Regions from separate parts of the Homo sapiens genome. Here region 2 is linked to region 1. A link means that fine-mapping ties the variant in region 1 to the plasma level of a protein whose gene starts in the linked region. Region 1 holds a variant in brackets. A gene starts in the other region. All regions are shown on their forward strands.

Evidence for each region. PIP is the chance, under the fine-mapping model, that this variant and not a neighbour inherited with it causes the effect. The UK Biobank Pharma Proteomics Project read protein levels with antibody pairs (Olink). The fine-mapping took linkage between variants from a reference panel, not from the people measured, so its PIPs are less certain.
Region 2: it holds the start of GOLM2, and the variant in region 1 is fine-mapped to the plasma level of the GOLM2 protein (UK Biobank, PIP above 0.99).

The regions. Positions count from the first base shown.
Region 1 is chr6:158,577,504-158,592,696 of GRCh38, forward strand. TMEM181 (transmembrane protein 181) reads left to right here. Exons shown (of 17, transcript NM_001376852.1): 3 at 3,437-3,492; 4 at 6,451-6,541; 5 at 7,801-7,922; 6 at 12,169-12,279. Among named protein-coding and RNA genes, the nearest start is that of MIR7161, 25 kb to the right of the region's middle. RefSeq lists a silencer at 1,585-1,797. The variant A/C (reference allele first, on the strand shown) is at 7,838.
Region 2 is chr15:44,286,621-44,301,813 of GRCh38, forward strand. It overlaps GOLM2 (golgi membrane protein 2), which reads left to right and starts at 2,099. Exons shown (of 10, transcript NM_138423.4): 1 at 2,099-2,736. The coding sequence starts at 2,410. RefSeq lists enhancers at 1,158-2,064, 1,446-1,515, 1,911-2,205 and silencers at 2,016-2,375, 9,431-9,725, 13,851-14,145.

The DNA of each region.
Region 1 (15,193 bases):
AAGAGATAGAGAATGGGTCAGAGAATATTTCAAGCGGTGATGACTGAAAACTTCCCATATTTGGTGAATGTGAATATAAACATCCAAGAAGCTCAACAAACTCAAAGTAGGATGAACTGAAAGAGACCCACACCAAGATATAATCAAACTGTAGAAAGCCAAAGACAGAATCTTGAAAGCAGTAAGAGAGTGACTCATCACATACAAGGGATCCTCAGTAAGTTTGTCAGCAGATACCTCATCAGAAACTTTGGAGACCAGAAGTCAGTGGGCTGATACATTCAAAGTTCTAAAAGAAAACTGTTGGCCGGGTGCAGTGGCTCACCCCTGTAATCCCAGTACTTTGGGAGGCTGAGGCGGGTGGATCACCTGAGGTCGGGAGTTCAAGACCAGCCTGACCAAGGTGGAGAAACCCCATTTCTACTAAAAATACAAAATTAGCCAGGCGTGGTGGCACATGCCTGTAATCCTAGCTACTTGGGAGGCTGAGGCAGGAGAATCTCTTGAACCCGGGAGGTGGAGGTTGTGGTGAGCTGAGATCGCGCCATTGCACTCCAGCCTGGGCAACAAGAGCGAAACTCCATCTCAAAAAAAAGACAAAAAAACAAAGAACAAAACAAAACTGTCAGTCAAGAATCCTACGTGTAGCAAAACTGAGGGAGAAGTTAAGACATTCCCAGATAAAATTTGAGGAAGTTATTACTATTAGACCTGCCCTGCAAGTATTGCTGAAGTGAGTCCTGCAGGTTGAAATGAAAGGACACTAGACAGTAACTTGAAGCCATATGATTTCAGTAAAGGTAAATACTTGGGTAATTATAAAAGCTCATATTATTGTAACAATGGTGTATAACTCCATTTTTTTTGTTTTCAACGTTATTTGAAAGACACATTTTTAAAAAGCCAACTATTACTGTAAAATCTAGTATTATTATAACTTTGGTTTGTAACTCCACATTTTGTTTTCTACATAGTTTAAGAGACTAATGCATTAAAACTTATTTTATGTTTTTGGACACAATATATAAAGATAGGCTTTTGTCACAATTGTGACAGCAGTTGAAAGAGGCGGGGATGGAGCTGTTATAGGTGCAGAATTTTTACATATTGATGTTAAGCTGGTATAAATTTAGAGTGTTATAACTTTAGGATATTAAAAGAGGTACAAAAAGGCTATGAGACATACAGAGAACGAAGGCATATAGAAAGCAAAATGACAGAAGCAAGTTTCTCCTGAGCAGTAATTACTATAAATGTAAATAAACTCTCCAATTAAAAAGCAGAGGTTGGCAGAATGGATTTTAAAACACCATACTCCAACTATATACTGTCTACAGGAGACTCACTCTAGATCCAAAGACACAAATAGGTTGAAGTAGAAGGATGGAAAAGGTTATGCCATGCAAATAGCACCACATGATCCAGCAATTTCACTTCCGTGTATATACTCAAGAGATTTGAAAGCAGGGTCTTGGCCGGGCATGGTGGCTCATGCCTGTAATCCCAGCACTTTGGGAGGCTGAGGCGGGTGAATCACCTGAGGTTAGAAGTTCGATTCCAGCCTAACCAACATGGTGAAACCCCGTCTCTACTAAAAATACAAAAATTAGCGAGGTGTGGTGGTGCATGCCTGTAATCCCAGCTACTTGGGAGGCTGAGGCAGGAGAAACACTTGAACCCAGGAGGCGGAGGTTGCAGTGAGCCGAGATCACGCTATTGTACTCCAGCCTGGGCAACAACAATGAAACTCCGTCTCAAAATTAAAAAAAAAAAAAGCAGGGTCTTGATATTTGTACACCCATGTTCATAGCAGCATTATTCACAATAACAAACTGTGGAATCAACCACAGTATCCATTGACAGATAAATGGACAGAGGAATGAAATGTGGTGTACACATACAATGGAATATTTAGCCTTAAAAAGTAAGGAAGTTCGGCCGGGCGCAGTGGCTCACGCCTGTAATCCCAGCACTTTGGGAGGGAGAGGTGTGTGGATCACAAGGTCAGGAGTTCAAGACCAGCCTGGCCAACATGATGAAACCCCATCTCTACTAAAATGCAAAAATTAGCCGAGCATGGTGGTAAGCACCTGTAATCCCAGCTACTTGGGAGGCTGAGGCAGGAGAATCGCTTGAACCTGGGAGGCAGAGGTTGCAGTGAGCCGAGATCCTGCCATTGCAGTCCAGCCTGGGCAACAAGAGTGAAACGCTGTCTCAAAAAACAAACAAACAAAAAACAAAAATAAGGAAATTCATACAGAAGCTATAATATGGATGAATTTTGAGGACATTATACTAAGTAAAATAAGCCATTGGAAAAAAGATAAATACTATAAGATTCACTTATATGGGGTACTTAGAGTAGTTAAAATCATCAAGACAGAAAGTAGAGTGGTGGCAGCCAGGGGCTGGGGGAAGGGAATGGGGAATTGTTTGATAGGCACAGTGTTTCAGTTTTGAATTGTGGAGATGGATGGCAGTGATGGTTGCACAGTATGAACGTATTTACTACCACTGAACTGTATGCTTAAAAATGGTTAAGACGGGCATGGCGCAGTGGCTCACGCCTGTAATCCCGGCACTTTGGGAGGCTGAGGTGGGCGGATCTCCTGAGGTCAGGAGTTCGAGACCAGCCTGACCAACATGGTGAAACCCTGTCTCTACTAAAAATAAAAAATTAGCCGGGCGTGGTGGCGCATGCCTGTAATCCCAGTTACTCGGGAGGCTGAGGCAGGAGAAGTGCTTGAACCTGGGAGGTGGAGGTGGTGGTGAGCTGAGACTGCGCTATTGCACTCCAGCCTGGGCAACAAGAACAAAAAGAAAAAAAATAGTTAAGATGTCAAGTTCTTGGATCTGTAGGAAAAAAAATGGTTAAGATGGCAAATCTTATGTATATTTTGTCACAGTAAAAATTGGAAAAAAAACTATGAGGTTCGTATACCTATTAGTTAAAACTTTATGCTTTCCTGCTTATATTAGCATATATTATGTTTATAGCCCTTAATAAGTATTTTTGGAAGACGGGATTAATTGGATGAGCAGATAAGTGTGTCTTAGGTTTTGGAAGAAATCTTTATATTTTACAGAATATATAAGACAGAGTCTCTATAGTTAATGCCTTCTTGGGCCCATGCATGTAGAGAGTGCTCTCATTGAGAGCCTAGCAGGGTGTTTCCTGTGGAAACCCTCTGTGTTGTATGCCAGTCATGCTGGTTGACTTGTGTTGGGAAGTCGTGAAGCACAGCAGAGTGGATATTCTGTGTCTGTGTTTGTGTGTTTATATCTTCTACTTACACATTGTATAATCTCTAAAGAAAAACCAGGTGAATTAAGGTCATCTCCGTGTAATGTGTGAGTCTTTCTTGGAATTTGGAAAAAAATACTAAATTATCAATATTGCTATAATCTGCTTTTGTCCTTTTCTGTTACACTTTAGGACCTAAAGTGATCCAGACTTCTGCGGCTAATTTTTCACTAAATAATAGCAAAAAGGTAAGACTGGGTCTGAGTGGCAGCTGGGTGGTGGGGTGCATTATAAACCTCAGGTCACTGAGAAATGGTTCCGCTTAGAGTCTTTAAGGTAGCCTTCCCTTGCCTTGCGGCTTCTCAGGCAACACATTTCTTCTTCCATTGTCAGCTGCTGGCATCTGGGTTCTTGTTTGCTAAAGTCACCATTTCTGCTGTAATAAACACCTCAGTACTTAGGAAGATGGTGGTGTTACCTCTTAGGGAGCAGTTGTTCATTTCCAAAGAGTGGCTAACTCATCCTGATTCCTTGCCTCTGTAAGTCCTATCAGATTGTAATTTTTAATAATGATACCACTTAGGTGTCTCATCTTATATTTGCCCAGGTTAAGAATTGGCCTCTGTCAGATTTCTAATGGTACATTTCTTTCTAATGATTACTTTGTATTCCTTGTGTGAACTCAATTTAAATGAAAAATCCTTTAAAAAATACACCTTAACTTGGCCAGGTGAGGTGGCTCATGCCTGTAATCCCAGCACTTTGGGAAGCTGAGGTGAGCTGATCACGAGGTCAAGAGATTGAGACCATCCTGGCTAACATGGTGAAACCCCATCTCTACTGAAAATACAAAAAAATTAGCTGGGCGTGGTGGGGGGGCGCCTGTAGTCCCAGCTACTCGGGAGGCTGAAGCAGGAGAATGGTGTGAACCCGGGCGGGGGAGCTTGCCGTCAGCCAAGATCGTGCCAATGCATCCAGCCTGGGTGACAGAGTGAGACTCTGTCTCAAAAAAAAAAAAAAAAAAAAAGCCTTAACTTTTTTACCACCTTTAGAGAAAAACAGAGCTTCTTTCAATTGGAGAATTTTGGTTTCCTTGAATAAATACTAACCTGTGAGAGCCCAGACAACTAAACCTTTTTTTGTGTGTGAAACATAACTTTACCTATAAACTGAACACAGTTGCCCTGTATCTTCGAGGCACCATGATATATATAGTTTAAATCTGATTGTATGACCCCAAATCCCCCTTCTCTCTGTTCTCACACTTCCCTGCTAGTTTTCTACCCTTATAATTTTGCAAAAAGTCAAAAGAAGAAAAAGTACTAAAACTTACACCATTTGATTTTTCTCTTTGCTACTGCTAGTTTGAAAGGGCCCTCTGCATAGCCTGTTTTCACATTTCCTTTGCATTGCTTTATTTTCTTTCACTGTTGGCGTGATGATCTGATTTGAGGAGGTGCCGCCGTGGGCTTTCCTGATAGTAGTTCATCTTTTACAGTTTCTGTCTCTCAGGGTGTGAGTCTCTCTTTGACACTGAACACAGCAGCCATTCCACTGAACTGACTTGCTTCCAAGAGACCATCCTCACTTCACTAAGACAGTAGCTCATTCCTGGAGAGATTTCCTGCCTTGATGGTTTTTAGGCAAATCTTTAGTCCTAGGGAGTTTTATTGAGACCCTGACAGAAGTATTAAGACACAAAAACACATTCACTTGAGACTAGCCTGGGCAGCATAGGGAGACTGTGTCTCTACAACAAATTTAAAAATAAGCTGGGTGTGGTGGGGCATACCTGTAGTCCCAGCTACTTGGGAGGCTGAGGTGGGAGGATCTCTTGATCCTGAGAGGTTGATGCTGCGGTAAGCCATGATTGCACCACTACACTCCAGCCCTGGGTGACAGAGCACGACCCTGTCTTAAAAAAGAAAAAAAAAGAAAAAACCCATTCACCTCCAAAGACGATGCATTCAGATAATGCTTTTCTTTGGAACCATGGGTGGGCTGCTTCAGTAACTCTCTCTGTGGCCTGCTGCTATTAAACACCAGTATTACGTCTTTCAAAAGATACTGCAGAAGAATCACTGGCAACATCATCACCTCTAATTTTTCTCCCCAGGGGTGTTAAGATTTTCTTTCAGAAGGCTAAAAATAGCAGACGTCAAAGAGCAATTTGCCTGGCATATGGATACTTCAGAAATAATTCTTGGCCGGGCGCAGTGGCTCATGCTTGTAATCCCAGCACTTTGGGAGGCCGAGGTGGGCTGATCATGAGATCAGGACTTCAAGACCAGTCTGGCCAACACGGTGAAACTCCATCTCTACTAGAAATAGAAAAATTAGCTGGGTGTGGTGGCAGGTGCCTGTAATCCCAGCTATTTGGGAGGCTGAGGCAGGAGAATCACTTGAACCTGGGAGGCAGAGGTTGCAGTGAGCCGAGATCACGCCCCTGCTCTCCAGCCTGGGTGACAGAGCTAGACTCCCGTCTCAAAAAATAATAATTCTTGAGATATATTATCTTGTAAATATGAAAGCATTCCTTTGGTATTCTTTATTGTCTTAGTATGTATCTCATCATTCTGCTCATTTTATTCTTTTTCCAAGATGGTTTTTTTCTTGATATTTAAGTAAGTGTATTGTCCCCAAGGGTCCCAGTGTGAAAAATGTCTGCTTAGAGATTTCTGTGAGAGACAGACGTGAATTGCTGCTGGAAGTTAGTCGTTTCTTCTTCTGAAAGGCAAAATGTCACTTATGTTCTTGAAAGGAAAACCTCATGGCCGGGCGCAGTGGCTAATGCCTGTAACCTAGCGCTTTAGGAGGCCGAGGTGGGCGGATCACCAGGTCAGGAGATCGAGACCATCCTGGCTAACACGGTGAAACTCCGTCTGTACTAGAAATACAAAAAATTAGCTGGACGTGGTGGCGGGCGCCTGTAGTCCCAGCTACTCGGGAGGCTGAGGCAGGAGAATGGCGTGAACCCAGGAGGCAGAGCTTGTAGTGAGCCGAGATCGCGCCACTGCACTCTAGCCTAGGCGACAGAGTGAGACTCCATCAAAATAAAAAAAAGAAGGAAAACCTCACATATTTCTGTTTCAAAGCTAACACTGAAGCCTTTATTGCTAAAAGTAAACTTTGTGTGTTAAAACGATGAGGTATTTGGTAGACTCAATGAAAAGGTCACATGGATTACTTTGTTTTTTTTTCTTCAGCTAAAGCCAATTCAAATACTTTCAAATCCACTGTCTACATACAATCAGCAACTATGGCTGACATGTGTTGTTGAGTTGGATCAATCAAAAGGTATGGAGCTTGACATTTTGGAATGATTTTTCATTATACGAAGAAACATCGTATTTTAGATGTTGACTTCAGAATATTCAGACAAGCAAGTGCTCAAAGATAGATGTATAAGGATGTCCATTATTATTTATCATAGCAACAAATTGGAAACCCCTTAAATGTCTTCCAGTGGGAGAGAAAGTTGCGATAGATAGACGTCCTCCGTGGAGTCCTGGTTAGCTCCGCTCAGTGGCTGCATGGTGTCGGCGCTACAGCTGCCAGCCTTTTTCAGTGAGGATCTGGGAGAGAATTAAGACCTGATGCCCTAAAATAATGGTTCTGGCCCCCAGGGACACTTGCCAATGTCTTGAGACAATTTCGTCACACACGGAGAGGAGGAGGGAGTGCTCCAGGCATCTAGTGGGTAGAGGGCAGAGGTGCCGACACCTCCCCCACTTTCACAACAAGGAATTATCTGGCCCAAAATGTCAGTGATGCAGAGGCTGAGAAACCCTCCCCTAATGCATCCATTGTTTATGATGAATTAGCTTCTGTCAGTCTACAGTGGCACTAGTTTTGTATCATCCTAGGGAGAATTGAGAAGATAACCAAATCCTTTTCTGTTCTGTGCCTCACATGAGACACTCTGGTTGAGAAAGAATTTGAAAAGATAACCCCATGACCACAGTAAATGAAGTGAAACAAATATATATTACGAAAAAATTATCCCCTCTTTGTAACATTTTAGAAAGCAAAAAATTCATATTACTACGTATTTGTCTAGAAAATGGTCTGGAAGGATAGACATGAAATATGAATTACGATTATCTCTAGGTGAAATTCTCAGTATTTAATGCTATCTTTATATTTTATGATTTTTTTAAAATGAGAATATAATGAGAAAAACCTATAATCAGAAGAAATAAGAAATCTATTTCTATTTTTGGTATAGAATTTGGTAAGTTAAAAATGTATGTGAGAAATTAAAAATATAAGTTCATTAGCCATGAAATATTTACCCTTTTTTTGTGTGTGAAGTGAAACTGATGGGTCTGAAGTGCAGGTTTTGACATAGACCCCCTGGGTGCTGGGTTGGAATCTAATGGAAAGGCTTTTACTTTGCTGGGCAATTAAGAGATTTTCAAATGTGCTGAGGCCAATGTGGCCTAAGGACCTTAAGCGTTTTCCTGGCTCCAAGGTCATTACAGAGCCAGGAAGGCACCTTTGTAGGTGTGATGTGCCTGGCATGGTCTCTAACACTGAATTTTTTTCTTTTGTAGAAACTTCTATTAAGACAAGCTTTCCCATGACTGTTAA[A/C]GTCGATGGTGTAGCTCAAGATGGAACCACGATGTACATTCATAACAAAGTTCACAACCGGACAAGGACCCTCACATGTGCAGGGGTGAGTGTGTGGGGTGAGCCCCACAGTCAGTCCTCAGGCTGTGTACACGTTTAATTACAGAGCCACTTTCCAGTCTAAAAGATAGCATGGTAAGAGGCTTCGAGAAATTGTTCTTAAGTGAAAAAAATGGAGTCATACCAAAGATGGCATGAAAAAACTTACTTATTTTTACAGTTGGATACCCTTAAAAATTCTTATAAACGTACACATGCATTCACACATCCGTAAACACACGTGTACGCACATATGCATGCACACACATATACTGCTAGCCACCCTGAGCATACACGGTACTTGTTTTTACTGTGTGTGTGACCTTCTGCCCAGTGTGTCCCTAATGAATGTTATGGGCTGCCTCCTCATACGAACGTCTGCCACAGGCTGTGGTCACTGGGTTTTTTTGTTTTATTTTGTTTAGAGACAGGTTTTTGCTCTGTCAACCAGGCTGGAGTGCAGTGGCACAATCACAGCTCACTGCAGCCTCAAACTCCTGGGCTCAAGCAATTCTCCTGCCTTAACTTCCCAAGTAACTGGGACTGCAAGCGTATGCTACCAGGGCTGACTAATTTTCCATGGTCACTCTTGACTGAGGCTTTGGGTTGTTCCCAGCCGAGTGATGCATGCCCTAATCCGTCTGTGTGAAGCCAAGTACCTGGGCCTCTTGGGCGTCAGGGGCCTACCTTTTTGAGCATCTACTTCAGAGCACAGTGTGGCTAAGGGATAGGAAACCTGGGTCCACAGTGGGGAATGAGCCCTCACGCTTGATTTCATTGGCACTGTATTCTGTTCAGAGTCCAAAGAATCAGAACCAGATCCCTGCTAGAGCGAGGAGTCCACCTCAGGCACAACAGGTTACTGGCAGCGTGGAGAACTTGGAGAGCATCAAAACAGGGCAGTGCATTTTCTTATAGGATTAGGAAAGTAATGTCAGAAGCCAGATGGCAAGTAGTTTCTCTGCTGGGTGTCATGCCAAGTACCGTCCACTCATTGTCTCATTCAGTCCTCATGGCAAGTCCATGAAGTAGAAACTACTGTTAGAGCCTATTTTGTAGAAGAAGAAACTGAGGCTTAGAGAGGTCTAAACCATTGCCCAAGGTAACGCAGATATTAAGTGGAGGGCCCAGGATTTAAACCTGTGCCCTTTTATTCTGAAGCTTGTGGCCTTAACCACCATGGATACTGCCTAGTTACTAGTGATACATATACTGGCACTGTTTTTCCTAGCAAGAAAGAATTCAAGGGCTAGGCGCAGTGGCTCATGCCTGTAATCCCAGCACTTTGGGAGGGTAGGGTGGGAGGATCACGTGGGACTGGCCTCTCATTCTGCTTCCAGGGGATGAGTCAGCTTCCAAAGTGTATTTTCCCCATCTATAAAGTTGGGATCAAGCCTTCCCTGCCTGCCTTAGGAAAGCAGTAAAGATCAAGGTGAATAACGTGTGAGTGTGCCTTATGTGTGCAGCCTGAGGCATCCCTGCGTCCCCCAGTGAGGCCTGTGTGCGGGAGGGGTGCGATCAGTACTGCTGAAGGGATAACAGGTGTGAGTGTCAGACAGGACCATGGCCCAAGAATCTGCTCTCTTCCTATCCGAGCGCCTGGTGGCCACTCCCACCTGGACAGCTTGATGACACCCACCTCTCAGATTGAGGCTCAATGGACCATTAGTCAGGGGTTGCTTATTTGGAGCTGTTGAGACCCATCGTCCTGGTTTGCTTGCACTGAGTGGTTGCTCAGCACACAGGACTTTGTTTTAAAATCGGGACAAGTGGGTTGCCCTACCTAAAGCCTTTGCTTCAAGCAGGGCCAGGCTGCCAGGGTACTGGCTGGTCTGCACTGTTCCTTCTTGGATGTGCCCGCCGTGCTGTGCATCTTGAGAATGGCCCTTCAGCGCATCTTCATGGTTTCTTCCCGCTTCCGTTGTTGGCCCTACCTCATTTTACACTGTGTTACCCCTTGGGAATATCTTGCTTCTGTTCCTTGTCTACGCAGGTCTCTAACCCTGCAAGGAGCATTGCCCTGGCTTTAAAAAACATGGAATTTTTACATTACAGAGATATTTACCACCCTCTTATATTACTTTTTTTTTTTTTAAACACACAGTCTTGCTATGTTGCCCAGGCTGGCTTTGAACTCCTGGGCTCAAGCAATCCTCCTGCTTCAGCCTCCCAAGTAGCTAGGATGACAGGTGTGCACCACCGTGCCTGGCTTCCTTTTTTTTTTTTTTTCTACTGTAAAGAAAAGCCATTGTCTGACTTAGGTAGCAAGGCTTTCCACGCCTTGCAGGTGGGAAAGCTGAGGTACCATCACGTGATTTTCAGAGGTACATCATTGTCAGCAGCAGAACCGTGGTTTGAACTTGGGATGCCGGAACCGCTGGTGTAGTTTTTTTAAACTCGTAAGTATATGCAGCCTGAGATACAGCTCTTTTGTTAATTAAAACATCCCTGAAAAGTGAGACAAATTCTTAAACTCGCAAGAGATGTTTGTCTACCCAGCAAAAATGTATTTACAGATTTTAAGCCATCCCTTCCTGTATAGTCCTTAGCCACCCCTGCCTTTGCGCATCATCCTGTGACCCGACTGCCAGAGGGGAAAGGTGAATTTAGTTTTGTCGAGAAGGTGGACCACACACTTAAAGCCCAGAGGGCAGGCAGCAGATTGCAATGAGAGCTGATCAGGTGGAAAGGAAGCCTTGGCTTCCCTTTCCAATGTGATGAAAATAGCAGATGACCTGTGCTTCCGGCATAGGAGAATGGGAGGTGGGCGGGTGGCCAGCCAGAGGGCTTTTAGCCCCTTTGCAGGGCAGCCCCTCCCTGCGGAGCACTGTGGGCTTCAGTGCAGACCCAGGGCTGCTAGTGGGCTGAAGTGTTTGGTGAGTTGAGATGGTGACCTTGGTGCTGCCTTCAGCCCCCTGCACACTCCCCTCCTCTCTGCTTTCTCCCCCTTGCCTTAGGTCAGCACCCCACTGTGTTAACCCCACTCCTTGTCCGCCTCCCTGACAGTTGCCCTCTTGTCTTTTTGTTTGTTTTTGTTTGTTTGTTTTTGAGACGGAGCTTTGCTCTTGTTGCCCAGGCTGGAGTGCAATGGCGTGATCTTGGCCCACTGCAACCTCCACCTCCCAGGTTCAAGGGATTCTCCTGCCTCAGCCTCCTGAGTAGCTGGGATTACAGGCGCCTGCCACCACACCCGGCTGATTTTTGGTACTTTTAGTGGAGATGGGGTTTCACTATGTTGGCCAAGCTGGTCTTGAACTAGCCTCAAGTGATCCGCCTGCCTTGGCCTCCCAAAGTGCTGGGATTACAGGCGTGAGCCACCACGCCCAGCCACCTTCTTGTCTTTTTTAAGCCTGCTGTGTAAAACCCACACCTGTTTTCTTACCTGACCTCAGACATTCGAGGCTTGACCAGTCATTGGAGCGATGCCCTATTAGAAAGCCAGAGAACCACCCGTTTGCTCTGGGCAGCAGCAGGATGGTGGAGAGTGACATTCCGAAAGGCAGGGCCGGGGCAGAGCTTGCTGGGGAGGAGTGGCTGGCTCTGTGTGCATGGCTGGTGGGTGCACCTCTGTATCCCTGCATGAGGGTTTGTCCTCCCTGCCACTCCGGAAGGGGATAACAAAGCAGAAGAGACCTGGCTTTTAATTCTAAAGGACAAAAGGAAGGGCTCTTGTCAACAGTGGAGCACACGTATCCTCACATCTGCACTTGGTGCTGTGCACACAGCCTTTGCTTTGACTCGGAGTGGAGGGTGGAGAGAGCAGGATGGAGAGGAAAGAGGGCTCCATGTAGAGAGTGACAGGTTAAAAGGAGAGAAAGAAGAATGTGTAATTCACTCTGTTCATTATTATAACAATCGCAAAATTGGGCCAGGGAGGACAAATTAGGCCGCGGCATCTGCATTGACGTGTCTTAGCTTACGTTTCCCCTGTGCTCTAGTGTTATATATTTATGGAAATGTCAGGCTTGCGTTGCACTGTTAACTTTCTTACACGGTGACTTATTTTCAGTCATCCAAAGTAGAAAGATTCTAATTGGTGTAAATCATATATTATGTTTCCAAAAATACCCATTTGGTTCATTCTTTCTAGGAACTGTGTTTGGCTGGCATCTGACTTTCTCTGGGCTTTTGGCGAGTTCCCTGGAGACAATGAGTTCTGCCCATCTGCTGTTGAAACGTGTTACTTCATGGGTTATTTGGCGGGAGCGTGAGTCTCGCTTTCTTTAAAGGCAAATCTTTCTGTGTATTTGCAGAAATGTGCGGAGATTATTGTGGCTCACCTTGGCTACCTGAACTACACTCAGTATACAGTGATAGTGGGATTTGAACACCTGAAGCTCCCCATCAAGGGAATGAACTTCACAGTAAGTATACCAGCTGACTGCACGTTTCCATGGCTCATGTTCTAGTTCCCATTCTTTGTTCAATGATTGAAATACATCTCAGCATCTAAATAATGTTAATTTGGACAGTGGAGGACTTGTAAAGTTTTTAAAAATTATAGGAAAACTACAGTTTCTTAAGTATATAGAACTAAGAATAGCTTAAATATCATAGAGATTGGGCAAACCTTAGGTGTCTGAGATTTAGAATAGAGAGTATATAGTGTGTTCAGCTGCAAGGCAGTGAAGGGGTTAGCAGACACAGCACCCCCTTCTCTGGCCCCTGTGAGTGGTCGTCAGTCTCTGCCCGAACTGCCGGTGAGTGGGAGGGCACTGTTCTAATTGTTAGACTGTCCTTTCTTGTGTCCAGCTGAAATCTCCCCTTTCCACTCATTAGGAGTCAGTATAACCAGCATAGTGATGAGGAGTGGGGGTTTAGACTGGACGGTGAGCTGGGTTCTCACGCTGCCTCCATCATTGACTCACGTGATTTTGTTGAGCCTCAGTTTTCTTATCTGTAAAATAGCTGCCTCATAGAGCTGTGAATATTAAATGAAGATACTAATGGATACCTTCAAAAAAAAAACAGCTTTATCAAAGTAGAAAGTTTGCTTGCCCTTTTAATGAAAGCGTACGTTCAGTGGTTTTTTTTTGTTTTGTTTTGTTTTTGTTTTTGAGACAGAGACTCACTCTGTCACCAGGCTGGAGTGTGGAGTGCAGTGGCACGATCTCGGCTCACTGCAACCTCCGCCTCCCGGGTTCAAGCAATTCTCCTGCCTCAGCCTCCCAAGTAGCTGGGATTACAAGTGTGTGCCACCATGCCCAGCTAATTTTTGTATTTTTAGTAGAGACAGAGTTTCACCATGTTGGCCAGGATGGTCTTGATCTCCTGACCTGGTGATCCGCCCACCTTGGCCTCCCAAAGTGCTGGGATTGCAGGCGTGAGCCACCGCGCCCGGCCCATTCAGTGGTTTTTAGCACAGTCGTGGAGCTGTCCAGTCATTCTGTTCCAGAACATTTTCATTGCCCCTTAAAGAAACCTGTTAGTGATCATTTCCCATTCCCTCCCCCACAGTCCTTGGCAATCACTAACGTTCTCTCTGTCCCCGTGGATTTGCCTGGTCTGGACATTTCGTGTGAATGGAGTCACACAACGTGTGGTCTTCGGTGACTGTCTGCTTTCACTTAGCGTGATGTCTCAAGGTCCATCCAGGTTGTCGCGGGATCAGTACTTCACTCCTTCATTTTGCTAAGTGATATTTTGTTGTATTGCTAGACCACATTTTGTTAATCCCTTCATCAGGTGACAGGCGTTTGGGTTGTTTCCATTTTTTTGGCTGTTGTGAACTACACAAAATGAGTTTTTTTCTCTGTCTACCCTATAGCCCTTTGCAGGCGGCCGTCTCCTCCCCTCTGAGATTGTTCTTTTCTTTCACGTTGTGCTGGGGATGTGACCTCTGCACCCCTCTGGCTCCATGTTTCCTTCCTGAAGCTGCCCCAGTCACCCAGCTGCAGGGGCAGGTGTTGCTGATGTGGAAGGAGCAGGTGGCCCTGGGCTGTGCTGCTGGGACAGCTGAGCCGGCTCTCTCGGGAGCCACGTCACTAGTGGTCTCTTCCTTTCAGCCCTTTGCCTCAGCCAGCCTTTCCAGATCTTTTGGATCTGAATCTGGGGTCTGGTCTTTGCTGTCTGAATGATCTCCTGGATCTTAGTCTTCAGAGAATCCGATTAGTATTCTGCTTGTGTCCTCCATTCATGGTGCAGTGGGGGATTCCAGATGGGGTCTGAGGCAGGTGCACTGAGCTTAGGCATACTTTGATGTAGTCCTTTGTTAATCATCTGTGCTTTAGACTTTGCTATTTCAGAATCATTCTGATTCAACAGTGCAGACAAACAAGGGACCTCTCCCTTTCATCATCTTCTTTATTAGAACATCATCTCCTACAAGCCTTTTATGGTTCTCAGCACCTTTCTCCAGAAGCTGTAGTTCATCCTGACCCTGTTCTATGGGTGTGGGCCGCTGTTTTGTCTTTATGGTTTTTGTCCTTCCATCTTTTGTATCTATGTTTCCTCTTAAAGTTGTTCCTGAAGAATTTGGTACATATGTTAGGTGAACTAGGTACATGCCATTCTGCCATTGCTGATGGAAGGCAAGTGATACAGTGTTACTGTGGGGCTCAAAAAGGAATTGGTTCAAAAGACGTTACCATGGGAACCACTCACCTTGAATTACACCACAGCCAGAGCCTCATTTCTGGTGGCACTCTTCAGCATCTGGAAAGACAGCCCTTGAGACCCTTGGGATTTGTAAGGGATGTCACCAAAGATTTTTCTGCGTTTTTTGTACATTTCGTTTCCCCAGCAGCCAGCATAGGGCCCAGCAGCTGCTAGGCTTGCAATAGATATGTATTGGTTGAATGAAAGAACAGCAGTACAGCACCTTACAAATTTAGAAATTCACGTGGCAACAGACTTCTGAAATTATGTTCATCCTTGCTTTAAACCAAAGATTAGAGAGTTCAAGAATGAATGTCTTTTTTCAACCAATCAATTTTCATAGATTGGGCCGGGGGCAGTAGCTTATGCCTGTAATCCCAGCACTTTGGAAAGTGAATGTAGTAGGATTGCTTGAGCCCAGGAGTTCGAGACCAGCCTGGACAACATAATGAGACCCCATCTTTTTTTTTTTTCTGAAACGGAGTCTCACTGTGTTGCCCAGGCTGGAGTGCAGTGGCGCGATCACGGCTTACTGTAACATCTGCCTCCCGGGTTCAGGCAATTCTCCTGCCTTAGCCTCCCTAGTAGCTGGGATTACAGCTACTAATAGCTGTAGTAGTTCACCACGCCCTGCTAATTTTCATATATTTAGTAGAGATGGGGTTTTACCACGTTGGCCAG
Region 2 (15,193 bases), not on the chromosome of region 1:
AAAAAAATCCTCTGGGGAAGAGTGGAAAGAGGATTGGTCATCTCGGCCATTTACTACATAAATGACTTTCGGCAAGTTACCTCTGCACCTGTAAAATGGAATAATGGTACCCAATAGTTCTATTAAACATCTGTTGAGGAAATGTATGTGTATGTGTTTTGTACAATATTTATACTTTTAGATTTGCCTATGTAAAAATGAAAACACTCGTGGGAACAGTAAATCTTAAGTAGTTAACATAACTTTATAGAATAATTTTTTTTTCTCTTCAGACGGAGTCTCACTCTGTTGCCCAAGGTGGGGTGCAATGGCACGATCTCGGCTCACTGCAACCTCTGCCTCACCGATTCAAGTGATTCTCCTGCCTCAGCCTCCCGAGTAGCTGAGGCTACAGGGGTGAGCCACCGCGCCCGGCCTAGAATAATTTTCGATTGCTGGTTGAGCAGAGCAAGGCCAATATGAGTTGAGGAAAGCAGAGATGGAAAGGCTCTTTATAGTTAATGATTTCTCATTTTTGCTTTGCTTCCTTTTGCCAAAGTCGGCTTGTCATCTGAGAGTGGAGAGGATTTGTTAGATCTTATGAAGCCAGAGCTCACTTCTGATGTGAACCAAGTATTAATAATTTTGGTGGTGGTTTTCTGTACTGCATCTGAGAGAGTAATCATTGTTCTTTGAAGATGCAATAATTCTACGCTACTACGGGACTTAGGGAAATAATTTTTGAGGATAGGAAGCACAGAATAATTAAGATGACAAGTCTTCCTGCCTCAAAATCATATCACTCTGATTCGAATAAAAAATACCAAGGTTTTTCCTTCTTGAGGTTTTATACTCATGGAAGTTCTTCAACCTGAGGTCTGAAAAATAAGGCAACCCCATCCTCTCCTTAAACAGGTTAGAGCCAGTACCTTTTTATTTCTCTATGCACGGACAAAATAATTATGCAAAAAAAAAAAAGAGGCAGGTTTTGTTTTTTTTTTTGCACTACTGAAATTCACACTTAACATATAAACAATCTGCTATATGCAGACAGCACTGGTGTTTAGAGTTCAATGATCTGGATTCAAGCCTATTTAAAACCAGATAAGAGAAAGTTCCCAAACATCTATGTGTCTTGGATTCTTCATCTGTAAAATTGCGTTGTTGAGAAGATAATATGAGACTAGGCGCGCAAAACAATTTGTTAGAGCTATTATTTCTAACCCGGAATGTGTTCGCTGGCAGTAACAGTGCATTAGTTACGATTCATCGAGGGCAGCTTCTGGACTTTCTGTTTGGAAGCCCAGCTGAGGCAAAAGCAGCAGTGCGTTTAAAAATTGGAGCTCGCCACATTCTGAAATTCTTTCGGTTCGTGAAAGCAGTAACCTAGGAAACGAGACTGGCACCACCCCTTTCAGTCCTAAAGCTTGGTTTCTCCCGCTTTTCTCCATTATGTTTAGGGCATCGCTATTTTACAGTCTTTTTGTTTTTTCTTTCCACATCATTAGCACAAAAGAGAAATTCCCCTTCTACAGAAGCAAGTACAAAACCTTTCTAGTCGCTCCTTTTTGGCAGCAGCTCACCTACTATTTTTTTCTATTCCGCGGTCGCAGCCCCAGACGTCCTCAAAGACAAATATTTTCGCGAGGGCCAGTGTAGGGCAGGAACTCCCTAGGCCTTGAATCAAGGGAATCCAGTAGATAACAACAGAAAGGACTCCGACCCAGGTACCTGAGACATCTGAGACCGCCAAAATTAACACAACACCCTACGCGACAGAGAAAACTCTGGGCGGGGAGAGAGAAAGAGAGCGAGCGAGCGAGAGAGAGAGAGAGCGAGAGAGAGAGAGAGAGAGAGAGAGAGAGAGAGAGAGAGAGAGAGAAAGAGAGCGAGCGAGAGAGAGCGAGAGAGCGAGAGAGCGAGAGAGCGAGAGAGCGAGAGAGAGAGAGAGAGAGAGAGAGAGAGAGAGAGAGAGAGAGAGAGAGAGAGAGAGACGAGAGGAAGCAACGTTCTCGCGACAAGAGGGGTGTCGACGGAAACTCGGAAATGGTCCCCTAGACGACCCGGCCCCAGCTAGTGGGTGGGGCCAGGGTACATCCGCCCCTTTCCGGTTTTTTTCCCCGCCTCCCAACCGTGAGGTGTTGGGTTTGGGGGACGCTGGCAGCTGGGTTCTCCCGGTTCCCTTGGGCAGGTGCAGGGTCGGGTTCAAAGCCTCCGGAACGCGTTTTGGCCTGATTTGAGGAGGGGGGCGGGGAGGGACCTGCGGCTTGCGGCCCCGCCCCCTTCTCCGGCTCGCAGCCGACCGGTAAGCCCGCCTCCTCCCTCGGCCGGCCCTGGGGCCGTGTCCGCCGGGCAACTCCAGCCGAGGCCTGGGCTTCTGCCTGCAGGTGTCTGCGGCGAGGCCCCTAGGGTACAGCCCGATTTGGCCCCATGGTGGGTTTCGGGGCCAACCGGCGGGCTGGCCGCCTGCCCTCTCTCGTGCTGGTGGTGCTGCTGGTGGTGATCGTCGTCCTCGCCTTCAACTACTGGAGCATCTCCTCCCGCCACGTCCTGCTTCAGGAGGAGGTGGCCGAGCTGCAGGGCCAGGTCCAGCGCACCGAAGTGGCCCGCGGGCGGCTGGAAAAGCGCAATTCGGACCTCTTGCTGTTGGTGGACACGCACAAGAAACAGATCGACCAGAAGGAGGCCGACTACGGCCGCCTCAGCAGCCGGCTGCAGGCCAGAGAGGGCCTCGGGAAGAGATGCGAGGATGACAAGGTAAGGACGACCCTTTTCTCTTCAAACCCCATGGTTTCTTTTCTCCCCGGGGTCTGGGGCGGGATGTTAATCCGCTAGCTGTTGTCTTATGCCTTCCAGTATTTCAGTCCTGAAGGCTCCTTTCACCCCCAACAACCCTGTTTCTGTCAGACTTTTCCCAGTTTATCAGTGCCACGTTCTCTGGTCCCTGCCAGAAAAAAATGACTGTAAATTCTGGTTCTCAAGAGTGGACTGTGTGCAGATGCTGCCTATTCTCTAAGCTCAGCTGGTGAGTTGGCAGTAGTAATCATCTGGCCTGTGTGGCCCCCTTACCTTCAAAGACACACAAATCTGGCGACTGCCAGGTTTGGTGTGGTTATTGTCTCATTTTTATTCCGTGCACACTGATCAATATTAATTTCGTTATTTAAAGAACGAAGCCGCCTCTGACTCCTCTACTTATGGTAGTCATCATATATTTTTTAAGCTGTGTGACTTTTAAAATCTCTATAGGGTGATGTATTGAATAACTAAATAATCAGCTATGACTGCCTTTTTGTGATCAAAATGTTATGATAGATGGGCCCTCGAGCTATATGTGAGACACACTTGTGTCTTGGACATAGTTGATCCATCATTATCTACTCAATTTGAATTGTTAATGAAATCAGCCAAAAGATTAGAATCTGAAAATAAATTTTAAGCAGTGGAATGTCATGTCAGTGTCTTCATTGAAAGAAAATAGAATGAAATTTTGTATAGCTAAGTTGCTATTAGGGTTGGTGTTTTATGCAGATGGAAAACTATACAAAGTTTTAAATATAAAAAGTTTAAAATTGAACTGTAATCATACTTGCTACTAAATAATCCTTGTTTTCATTAGCTCATTGGTAACTATATTAATAGTTTATGACTTAGCAACTTCTGTAGGTATAGTAGAGTTATGAAAATTTCTGGGCAGGATAGTAGATGCCTTTCTATACACTTCTTTGGTAATCTTCACATTTTTGTGTGTAAATGCCCATTATAATTACAAGTTTTACTTTGCATATCAAAATCACTTAAGGGTAAGTCATTATGAATTAAACTGTCTGTGAGCTTCTAACTTTCCTGTTGACAGCCTCTACCTGGCTTTCTTATTTCATGAAGATTAAGGCCCTCAGCTAAGTGCTTCCCTATAACCCCCTCCTCTTCACCATAACATAGACATGCTATGATAGGGTCAAGGAATCAGTACATTTATATGTGCGCTGCATGCTTAACTCTAAAGACTGAAAAACTCTCGGGCAGAGTAGGTAGAAATCCATGAAAGTTTGGAGTATTAAAGTAAGGTCTTCCTACTTGGCATGGTTGAGCATTACAATTCACATTCTTCTCTCTGGTCTCAAAGGAAAGTCTCTTGTTGTAATTAATACTCTTGATTCCATTCTTTCATCCATTGGACTTTTTGTTGTTGTCGTTGTTGTTGTTGTTGTTGTTTTTTGAGACGGAGTTTTGTTTTTGTTGCCCAGGCAGGAGTGCAATGGCGTGATCTCAGCTCACTGCAACCTCCGCCCCCCCGGGGTTCAAGCAATTCTCCTGCTTCAGCCTCCTGAGTAGCTGGGATTACAGGCATGCACCACCACGCCTGGCTAATTTTGTATTTTTAGTAGAGAAGGGGTTTCTCAATGTTGGTCAGGCTGGTCTTGAACTACCAACCTCAGGTGATCCGCCCGCCTCAGCCTCCCAAAGTGCTGGGATTACAGGTGTGAGCCACCATGCCCAGCCTCTTTTTTTTTTTTTTTTTTTAAAGAGACAGGGTCTCATTGTGTTGCCCAGGCTGGAGTGCAGTAGCTGTTACACAGGCATGATGCACTATAGCATTGAAATCCTGAGCTCAAGTGATCCTCCTGCTTCAGCCTCTGAGTAGCTGGGACTGCAGGTGTGCACCACCTTGCCCAGCTCTACTGAACTGTCTCTTTCAGTTTGTTTCACTTTTTACCTTCAACAGTATGTGGGTGTCCCCTGTTCTCAGTAAAGGAAAAAAAATCTGTATATTCCTTTCTCCCAACCAACCCATTTGTTTTTTCACTTTCATTGCTAAAGTCAAATTATTGATGGTCTACAAATGTTCCATCTACCTATTTTTTCATAACCATCCTAATCTTAAAATGTCTGCCATCTTTCTTTCCTCCCCTTTTTTGAAACTATTCTCTTGAAGGTCACAAATGGCAGTCTTCCTAGTCAAAACCAAAGAATATTTTTATTCTTACTGTATTTGACCTCCCAGTAGTTTGATCCTGTTGATTGTCTCTAGCTATTTGGAAACTATTTTCTTTCTTGCTTCTGTTATACTGGACTCTCCAGTCTTATCTTCTTCACTATATTCTTTGCTGGATTTATTTTTTCTTTCCAGTCACCTAGTAAGGGACTCTGTTATTGAGCCTTTGCTCTCCCATAAGAGCAGTATTCCCCAAAGTAGTGTTAAACAGAATACCCTTCTTGTAATATTTCTTAGGTGGTGAGGAGAAAAAAATGAAAACCTTTTTTGGAGGGAAATGTTAGTGTATCCTCCTCTTGGAATTCATAATGCCTGCTGGAATATAAAAGCTCTGAGAAATCCATTAATAAAGAAGGCTATTCAATTTTGTTTAACTCAGTCTTGTTTAGTTTATTTGATCACAGGTTACTATTTTCATGGCCTACCTATTATGGCACAGAATAATATAGCAAAGCCCACTAGTTTGGGAAATATTGCCCTGGGTATCTTAACTACTTTTAAGTGTTTGGCTAATATTTTATGCAGCTGGCTCACAAGACTGTATCTCTTATTGAATGTCAGTTCTGTGTGTGTATATGTGTATACATACATATATATATATATATATTTTTTTTTTTTTTTAGACAGAGTCTCGCTCGGTTAAGCAGGCTGGAGTACAGTGGTGTGATCTCGGCTCACTGCAAGCTCCGCCTCCTGGGTTCACGCCATTCTCTGCTTCAGCCTCCTGAGTAGCTGGGACTACAGGCGCCCACCTCCATGCCCGGCTAATTTTTTGTATTTTTAGTAGAGATGGGGTTTCACCATGTTAGCCAAGATGGTCTCGATCTCCTGACCTCGTGATCCACCAGCCTTGGCCTCCCAAAGTGCTGAGATTACAGGCGTGAGCCACCGCACCCGGCTAGTTCTGTATATTTTTAAAAGTTTTTTCTTTTTTTAGTTTTGTAGAGATAGGGTGTTGCTATGTTGCCCAGGCTGCTTTCAAACTCCTGGCTCCAAGTGATCTTGCCTTGGGCTCACAAAGTGCTGGGATTCTAGGTGTGTGCCACAGCACTTGGTGTGCCACTTCTGTATTTTGAGCTGGCTATAACAACTTTCTTGGGCTGCTTGTGAATGTCTGTTCTTGGGGTTAATGAGGACTCTCTGAGCTGCTTAGTAGAAAGGGTAGTCTTGGTCTCTGTATTTTAAACTTAACAGTTTTTCAGGGTTTTTTTTATTGTTATTGTTGTTTGTTTGTTTTGAGACAGGGTCTTGCTCTGTCACCCAGGCTGGAGAGCAGTGGTGCGATCATAGTTTACTACAGCCTCAAACTCCTGGGCTCAAGCGATCCTCCCACCTCGGCCTCCCAAGTAGCTGGGACTATAGGTGCATGCCACCATGATGGTCTAATTTTTTATTTTTTGGTAGAGATGAGGGTCTTATTATCTTGTCCAGGCTGGTCTCCAGTTCCTGGCCTGAAGTGATCCTCCTGCCTTGGCCTTCTAAAGTGCTGGGTGTGAGCCACCATACTTGGCCACTTAACAGTTTTAGATCTGGAAAATTATTGGAAAATTAGATCTGGAAAACTAAACAAGTGATCCTCCTGCCTTGGCCTTCTAAAGTGCCAGGTGTGAGCTACCATACCTGGCCACTTAACAGTTTTAGATCTGGAAAATTATTGCAAAGATAGTACAGGGAGTTTTTATATACCCCACACCCAGTCTTCCCTATTATTAACATCTTAACATAAGTATGATGCATTTGTCACAATTAATGAACCAGTATTGATATCTTATTATGAAAGTCCGTACTTTATTCAGATTTCTTCAGTTTTCGCCTGCTGTCCTTTTTTAATTCCAGGATCTCATCCAGAGTTACGTTACATTTAGACATTATGTCTTCTGAAGCTTCTTTTCAGCCTTTCCTTGTTTTTTAGACCTTTTCTTGTTTTTGATAATCTTGACAATTTTAAGGATTACTGATTAGGTGTTTTATATAGAATGTCCCTCAATTGGGAATTGTCTGAGTCTTTTCTCAGGATTAGACTGGAGTTGTGGGTTTTCGGACAAAGACCACAGAAGTAAAGTACCAATCTCAACACATCATAACATGGGTATGTTTTTCAAAATGATTTATCACTACTTATGTTAACCTCTATCACCTGGCGTGAGATAGTGCTTGTCAGGTTTCTCCACTATAATGTACTCTTAAAAAAAATCTGTTTCCATACTGTACACTTTGGAAGAAAGTATGTTCACCCTCACTTAATGAGTGGGTAGTTATGTTTTTCCTCCTTAAGGACAGAGTATCAACATAAACTATATGGAATTCTTCTGCAAAGGAGATTTGTCTCTTCTCCCTCATTTATTAACTTAATAATTTACTTGTATCGGTATGGACTCATGGATATTTATTTTGTACTTTGGCTTATAATCCAATATTAGTTTATTTTTTTGTTGCTCAAATTGTTCTGGCTCTGGCTGTTGGAGAGCTCCTTCATTAACTCCTGTATCCCCTTCTTACTTTTATAGTGCCAGAAAGTACAGAGAATTTCCACATACCCTACACCCAGTTTCATTGTGACATACCCCTTTCTTACTTTTTGGTACTTTTAGATGCTCTAGGCCTATCTATACGTTTCCTACTCCAGCCCTAGAGTCAACCATTTCTCCAAGGAACCTTGGTTCCTTTTATTGGAGAATGGCATTAGAAACCAAGGTCTGCAGCTGGGCACGGTGGCTCACGCCTGTAGTCCCAACACTTTGGGAGGCTGAGGCTAGTGGATTTCTTGAGGTCAGGAGTTCAAGACCACCCTGACTAACATGGTGAAACCCCATCTCTACTTAAAAATACAAAAATTGGGCCAGACACGGTGGCTCACGCCTGTAATCCCAGCACTTTGGGAGGCCGAGGTGGGCAGATCACAAGGTCAGGAGTTCGAGACCAGCCTGGCTAGCATGGTGAAACTCCGTCTCTACTAAAAATACAAAAAATTAGTCGGGTATGGTGGTGCGCACCTGTAGTCCCAGCTACTTGGGAGGCTGAGGCAGGAGAATTGCTTGAACCCGGCAGGCAGAGGTTGCAGTGAGCTGAGATCACGCCATTGCACTCCAGCCTGGAGGACAGCGAGACTCCATCTCAAAAAAAAAAAAAAAAACACCACCACCACAAAAAAAAACAAAAATTAACCGGGCATGGTGGGGGGCGCCTGTAATCCCAGCTACTTGGGAGGAGTATCGTTTGAACTGGGAAGCAGAGGTTGCAGTGAGCCAAGATTGTGCCACTGCACTCCAGCCTGGGCAACAGAGTAAGACTCTGTCTCACAAAAAAAAAAAAAGAAACCAAGGTCTGCTTGGCAGATATGCTCGTTGCTACTATAAGGTTATCTTTGGAAATCAAGGAATCCTTTCTCCAGAGGAATCAGAAAGGTGATATTTGGTTTCTTTCACATTATTATGCCATTCTGTCACTTCCAGTCTGTTACCTGGGTTACTAAACACATAAATTCCTTTTTTTTTTTTTTTCTGAGATGGAGCCTCACTCTGTCACCCAGGCTGGAGCGCAGTGGCGCAGTCTCAGCTCACTTCAACCTCCACCCGCCGGGCTGAAGTGATTCTCCTGCCTCATCCTCCTGAGTAGCTGAGACTACAGGTGCATGCCACCATGCCTGGCTAATTTTTGATTTTTTAGTAGAGACAGGGTTTCACCATGTTGGCCAGGCTGGTCTTTAACTCCTGACCTCAAGTGATCTGCCCACCTTGGCCTCCCAAAGTGCTGGATTACAGGCATGACCCACCACATCCGGCCTTGAACATGGAAATTCTTTAAGGGAGCTTTAAGTTGCTCCTGTCTTGTCCAAAGAAGTGAGAAACAACCCCCACTTCTCTGAGATTCCCTCAAACTTTCTGATTTTTTAAACTTCCCTCTAAAGGGTTTCAGCCTGGAGGGGTGTATTAGTTTGCTAGGGCTGCCATAACAAAATGCCACAGACTAGGTGGCTTAAACAGCAGAAATTTATTTTCTCACATTTTTGAAGGTTGGAAGTCTAAGACCAAGGTGCCAGCAGGGTTGTTTTTCTCTGAACTTCTCTCCTTGGCTTGCAGATGGCAACCTTCTTGCTGCTTTATTGTGACATGATAGTCCCTCTGTATGCACACATCCTTGGTGTCTTTTCCTCTTCTTAAAAGGATACGAGTCATATTGGATTAGACCCACTGTAACTTAAGCACTTTAAAGACCTTGTCTCCAAATACAGTTACATTCTGAGATCCTGGAGGCTGGGACTTCAACATGTGAATTTGGGGGAAACACAGTTCATCTTAGAACAAGGGAGATCCACCACACATACACACACACACACACACACACACACACACAGACACCCTTTTATTTCCTCTTTTATCAGAAAAGTCCTTATTTCTCTTTCCTCAGTACAGGGCATGTCTCTTAACTTTGATTATTATTCTCTCTCTCTTTGTCTTTTAAAGAGATGGGGTCTTACTACATTGCCCAGGCTAGAATGCAGTAGCTATTCATAGGTGTGATCATAGCACACCACAGCCAGGAACTCCTGGTCTCAAGTGAAGGTCCTCCTGTTTAAGCCTTCTGAGTAGCTGAAACTACAGGTGTGCACCACTGTGCTTGGCTCCTAAACTTGGATTCTTGCAAACTGTAGCTCATACTAAAGCTATGTGGTCCAGCTGTGGCACGTCAAGCTCTTGATAAATAAAAGGAGCTGTTAGAATGTAGAAAAAGTCCTCAAAATTGTCGTTTTATTACACACATACACACACATACACACACATCAGTTTTGAGGTTTGAAGCTGAATAGTAAATGACCTTTTTTCCCTTTAACAACCATAATTTTCCTTGAGGCAGCCTATGCCTTTAGTTGAATGGGGAAAAGGTCATATGTCAGAAAGGAGGATGAGAAGCGTATTACAAAAAAATGCTTTTTGGGGGAAAATTTTGGAATATAATAGTAGTCTCTCTTATTCTTGAGAGGTTTGAGTAAATTGATTAAAATTCTTAAAACAGTGCCTACTACATTGTTATTCTACAGCTACTTCCTTATTTCTTTTCTGCCTTTTTTCCAGGATGGGACTCTGTCTGTGTTCCTGCCCAAGATCTGGTCCCAGCCCTAGCCTACCTGCCTCACCCTTTGCTCCTGAATGTCTGACTGTTTTTGTTATTTGCTTGTTTTCAGTTTCCTGGTTCATTTCCAGTTAGGCTTAGTTGGCTCCTCCCATAGGTGTCTTAGCTGACTCCCTAGAGCTTGCCTGTTCTTCTGTAATTTGAGTATCAACCTTCTACAGTTCTAATATGCTGCACATGATAATTCCTGCCTTTGCCTCTGCCTCACCAGCCATAATCTGGCCAACTTTTAACTGTAATTTCTACCTCAAATTATTCATAAACCAATCAAAACTGATAACTCTTCCAAACGATATCCCTTTCCTACCTTCTTGGTTCCTATAAATGATGCCCATGCAACTGTTATTTAAGACTGAGGTTAGAAATTTGGTGTTGTCTTTGATTCCTTCAGTGTATCATATTGAGTGCTTCAACATGCAGAGGAGTTACTTGATCGAATTAAAAAAAACGTCATTCTGACTGCAGAATAGAGAACTTGGCAGATCCCTAACTAGTCCCCTTTCCTTGGTCTCCATTTCTTTTTGTCAGTTCTCCTGTGAAGCCAGCCTGAACTTCCTCAAACCTTATTTTCAGAGTGGCTGTATGACTCACTGACTACATCAGGTTAGAATTCTGCTGTCTCATCTTTAAGGTCTTCCATAGAATGGCTCTAGCTACCTTTGTCTCCCACTATCTCCTGACCCAAATTGTATTTCAGGCTGATTGTTTTGCTTACTTTTGCCTTCCCACCTGCCTTTCTGTGTCATGTTAATTCCTGTTTCTGTGCCTTTGTTCCTGCTGTTTGACTCTTAGTTTCTTGCCTCTTTTCTGTATATTTATTATACCAATTTTTTTTTGTTTTTTTTTTTTTAATTGAGGCAGAGTCTTGCTCTGTCGCCCAGGCTGGAGTGCAGTGGTGTGATCTTGGCTCACTGCAAGCTCCGCCTCCCGGGTTCACACCATTCTCCTGCCTCAGCCTCCTGAGTAGCTAGGACTACAGGCACCCGCCACCAGGCCCAGCTAAATTTTTTGTATTTTGAGTAGAGAAGGGGTTTCACCATGTTAGTCAGGATGGTCTCCATCTTGATCTCCTGACCTCATGATCCACCCGCCTTGGCCTCCCAAAGTGTTGGGATTACAGGTGTGAGCCACCGCACCTGGCCTTTTTTTTTTTTTTTTTTGAGATGGAGTCTTGCTCTGTTGCCCAGGCTGCAGTACAGTGACGCAATCTTGGCTCATTGCAACCTCCGCCTCCCGGGTTTAAGCGACTCTCCTGCCTCAGCCTCCTGAGTAGCTGGGATTACAGGCACGCACCACCAGGCCTGGCTAAATTTTTTTGTATTTTTAATAGAGATGGGGTTTCACCATGTTGGCCAAGCTGGTCTCGAACTCCTGACCTTGTGAACCGTCCACCTTGACCTCCCAAAGTGCTGGGATTACAGGCATGAGCCACCACACCTGGCCTATTCTACCAATCTTTTATCCAGCTTCTGATCCATGTCCACTATGAAGCCCCCTGGGACTTCTGACCTGGAATATGCTTTTCCTTCTTTTCTTTTTCTTTTTTTTTTTTTTTGAGATGGAGTTTTGCTCTTGTCGCCCAGGTTGGAGTGCAATGGCGCGATCTCAGCTTACTGCAACCTCCGCCTCCCAGGTTCAAGTGATTCTCTAGCCTCAGCCTCCCAAGTAGCTGGGATTATAGGCACCCACCACCATGGCCGGCTAATTTTTTTTTTTTTTTTTGTATTTTTAGTAAAGATGGGGTTTTACCACATTGGCCAGGCTGGTCTCGAACTCCTAACCTCAGGTGATCCACCCACCTGGGCCTCCCAAAGTGCTGGGATTACAGGTGTGAGCCACTGCTCCCAGCCATGCTTTTCCTTCTTTATACACCATTTACATTTATTGTTTGAGCTTCATTAACTTATTTTGTTCATTTTTTACTAATAGCTTATTGTTTGTGAACTTCGTTTTCTCAACGAAATTTTAAGTTCCTTGAGGAAGGACTATGTTTTAAATTTTTTCCTGCGGGAAAAATTGTTCTTAGTGCTGTTACAAAATGTACGAGGTTGATTTGTATCCCCTAAAAGGATATATTGAAGTCTAAATCACCTGTGAATGTTATCTTAGTTTGGGAATAGGGTCTTTGCAGATGTAATCAAGTTAAAATGAGGTCATACTGGATTAGGGTGGCCCCTATTCCATTATAACTGGTATCCTTATAAGAAAAAAAAATAGAATTAGGGAGAACACCAGGTGCATGAATACACAGAGACACACAGACACATTGCAGAGACCGCATGGCAGATAAAGGCAGAGATTGGAGTTATGTTTCCACAAACCAAGGAATGCCCAGGGCTACCAGAAGCCAGAAGCCAGGAGCCTCCCCCTAGAGGCTCCAGTGGGAACAGGGCTTTGCCAACACCTTGATTTTGGACTTCTAGCCTCTGAAACCATCCTCTAGCACTGTGAGACAATACATTTCTGCTTTATGCTATTCAGTTTGTGGCACTTTGTTATATCAGCCTAGGAAACAAATACACAAATGCATACTTAAAAGTTAATTTGATTTTTTGACTAGATAATTGTTTTTGTTTTTTTTTTTTGAGACAGAGTCTCGCTCTGTCGCCCAGGCTGGAGTGCAGTGGCGCGATCTCAGCTCACTGCAACCTCCACCTCCCGAGTTCAAGTGGTTCTCCTGCTTCTTCCTTCCGAGTAGCTGGGATTACAGGCACGCACCACCACACCCAGCTAAATTTTGCATTTTTGATAGAGACAGTGTTTCACCATATTGGCCAGGCTGGTCTTGAACTCCTGACCTCAGGTGATCCGCCCGCCTCGGCCTCCCAAATTGACTAGATAACTACTCTTATATAATATATACTGTGTGGCAGTATGGTTCACTGGAAAGAACAAGGGTTTTTGGAGTCAAACAGACTTGAGTTTATAATTCTACCATTATGTTACCTCTCCTTAAGCCTGTTTCTTCACTCATAAAATGAAGAGGATTCATGAAGTAAAATATTTAGAGGCCTGTCCCATACAAAGCTTGACATTTAATAATATTGGTTCCTTTCTTTCATGGGTGCATTGGTATAGCTAATCTTGAAGAAATTTGGGGCTAGGTGTAGTGGCTCATGCCTATAATCCCAGCACTTTGGGTGGCTGAGGCAGGAGGATCATGTGAGGCCAGGAGGTTGAGGCTAGCCTGGGCAACATAGCAAAAAAAAAAAAAAAAAAAAAAAAAAAGCTGGGCATGGTGACACATGCCCATAGTCTTAATTGCTTGGGAGGTTTAAGCTGGAGGATCACTTGAGCCCAGGAGTTTGAAGCTGCAGGGAGCTATGATTGTGCCACTGTGCCCTAGCCTGACAACAGAGCAAGACCCTGTCTCAAAAAAAGAAAGAAAAGGAAAAAAGAAAAGAAGAGAGGAGAGGAGGGGAGGGGAGGAGGAAAGAGAAGGAAGGAAGGAAGGGAGGGAAGGAAGGAGGGAAGGAGAGAAAGAGGAAGAAAGAGGGAGAGGGAGAGGGAAGAAAGAAAAGAAAGGAAGAAGGGAGGGAGGAAGGAAGGAAGAAGTTTAGTCTTGTATTATTCTATTGAAACCCAAGTATATTAATTCAGTTGACAAAAATTTATTAAATATATTGGGCACTTACTGTGCTATACACTAAAATGATCTTTGAAACAAGTTTTCACTTTTCTTTGTCTCCCTTTCTTATTTTTGTATTTCTCTGTTTTTTCTTACTCTCCTGATAAAGGACTGAGTAATCTCAGGAGGTTCCATGAAGATCATAAAACAAGCTGCTTTTTGAAAAATGATGACTAGGATTTAGTTGTGCAGAAAAAAGGTAAAAGGACATTCAAGGAGCTCCCTTTTACTTACTCCATAGAGGCAAACAAACAGTTCTTATAGTGTGGCATGTAACATCTGTCTCCTGAAGTGACAGGGAGTACCTTTTGACTTATGACCTCATTAAACAGGAGGAACTAGTCCTTACAATTTTTGGTTGAAGACCTTAAAGTTCCCCATGTTAGCCTCTTCCTCAAAAGAGAGTTAAAGTTTCCTTGAATTCAAAGTCCAGGCTTTTTTCTAGGGACAGACTGGGCATGCAGTAATTTCAGTTTCTCACAGTGCTTCAAGGCTCTCTTTCTTGTTCTTAATTAACTTTATCTAATTTTCTTACACTGTTTCTGGCCAGGTAGTTCCTCTTTTGAACAATGTTGCCACAGAGCTTTTGCTCAGATGCTTTTAATGTCTGATTCTTTCTCTTTTCCAAACTACACTTTTTCCCTGAGGATGACTTCAAAACTTACATCCACGAAGCTTTTTCTATTTAATATAAAATGATTTGCTTTCCTTTTACAATTTCAATTTTCTATATCCAATTTAAGTTCAACTTAGGGGAACATTTTTTCTCATTTGATGATTAACAAAGGCCTCTCATAGCTCACTGCAGCCTCAGACTCCTGGCCTCAAGTGATCCTCCCGCCTCAGCATCTCAAAGTGCTGGGATTACAGGCATGAGCCACCATGCCTGGCTACATTTTCACTCTTAAACTTGACTCTCTATAGCATTTTATACTGATGATCTCTCCTTTCTCTCCTTTTTGAAACTTCTTCCCTTTAGCTTTAATAATACCCATTTATCTTGGTTATCCTATCATTTTCCCACTCAATGTTTACATATGCTGTGCTTCCATCTTTAACCCCATTTTAATTTCTTTATTGAACAAATATGTTCAAGTTTCTATTTTGGATCAGTTACTATGCTGCATGCATATCACATAGTGAATGAGTGAACAAGACAGATATGGTATACATTGACTATGGAACTTACCCTTGAGCAGGGGCTATGAGGGGAAGACCTAACCTATTTTAGAGGCTTAGGGATGACATTCTTGAGAGTTTTAGTTGAGTCCTAAAAAAAAGATCAGGATTTAATGAGGCAAAGATTGAGTGAGAGGTTTGAGATAAGAGGCTCAGGAGAGATGAAAAGAGGGTTCCAGATGTAGAATGTTGCATATTTTATTTTATTGCATATTTTAAAGCACAGGATATCAGCCGGGTATGGTGCCACATGCCTATAATCCCATTTACTCGGGAGGTTG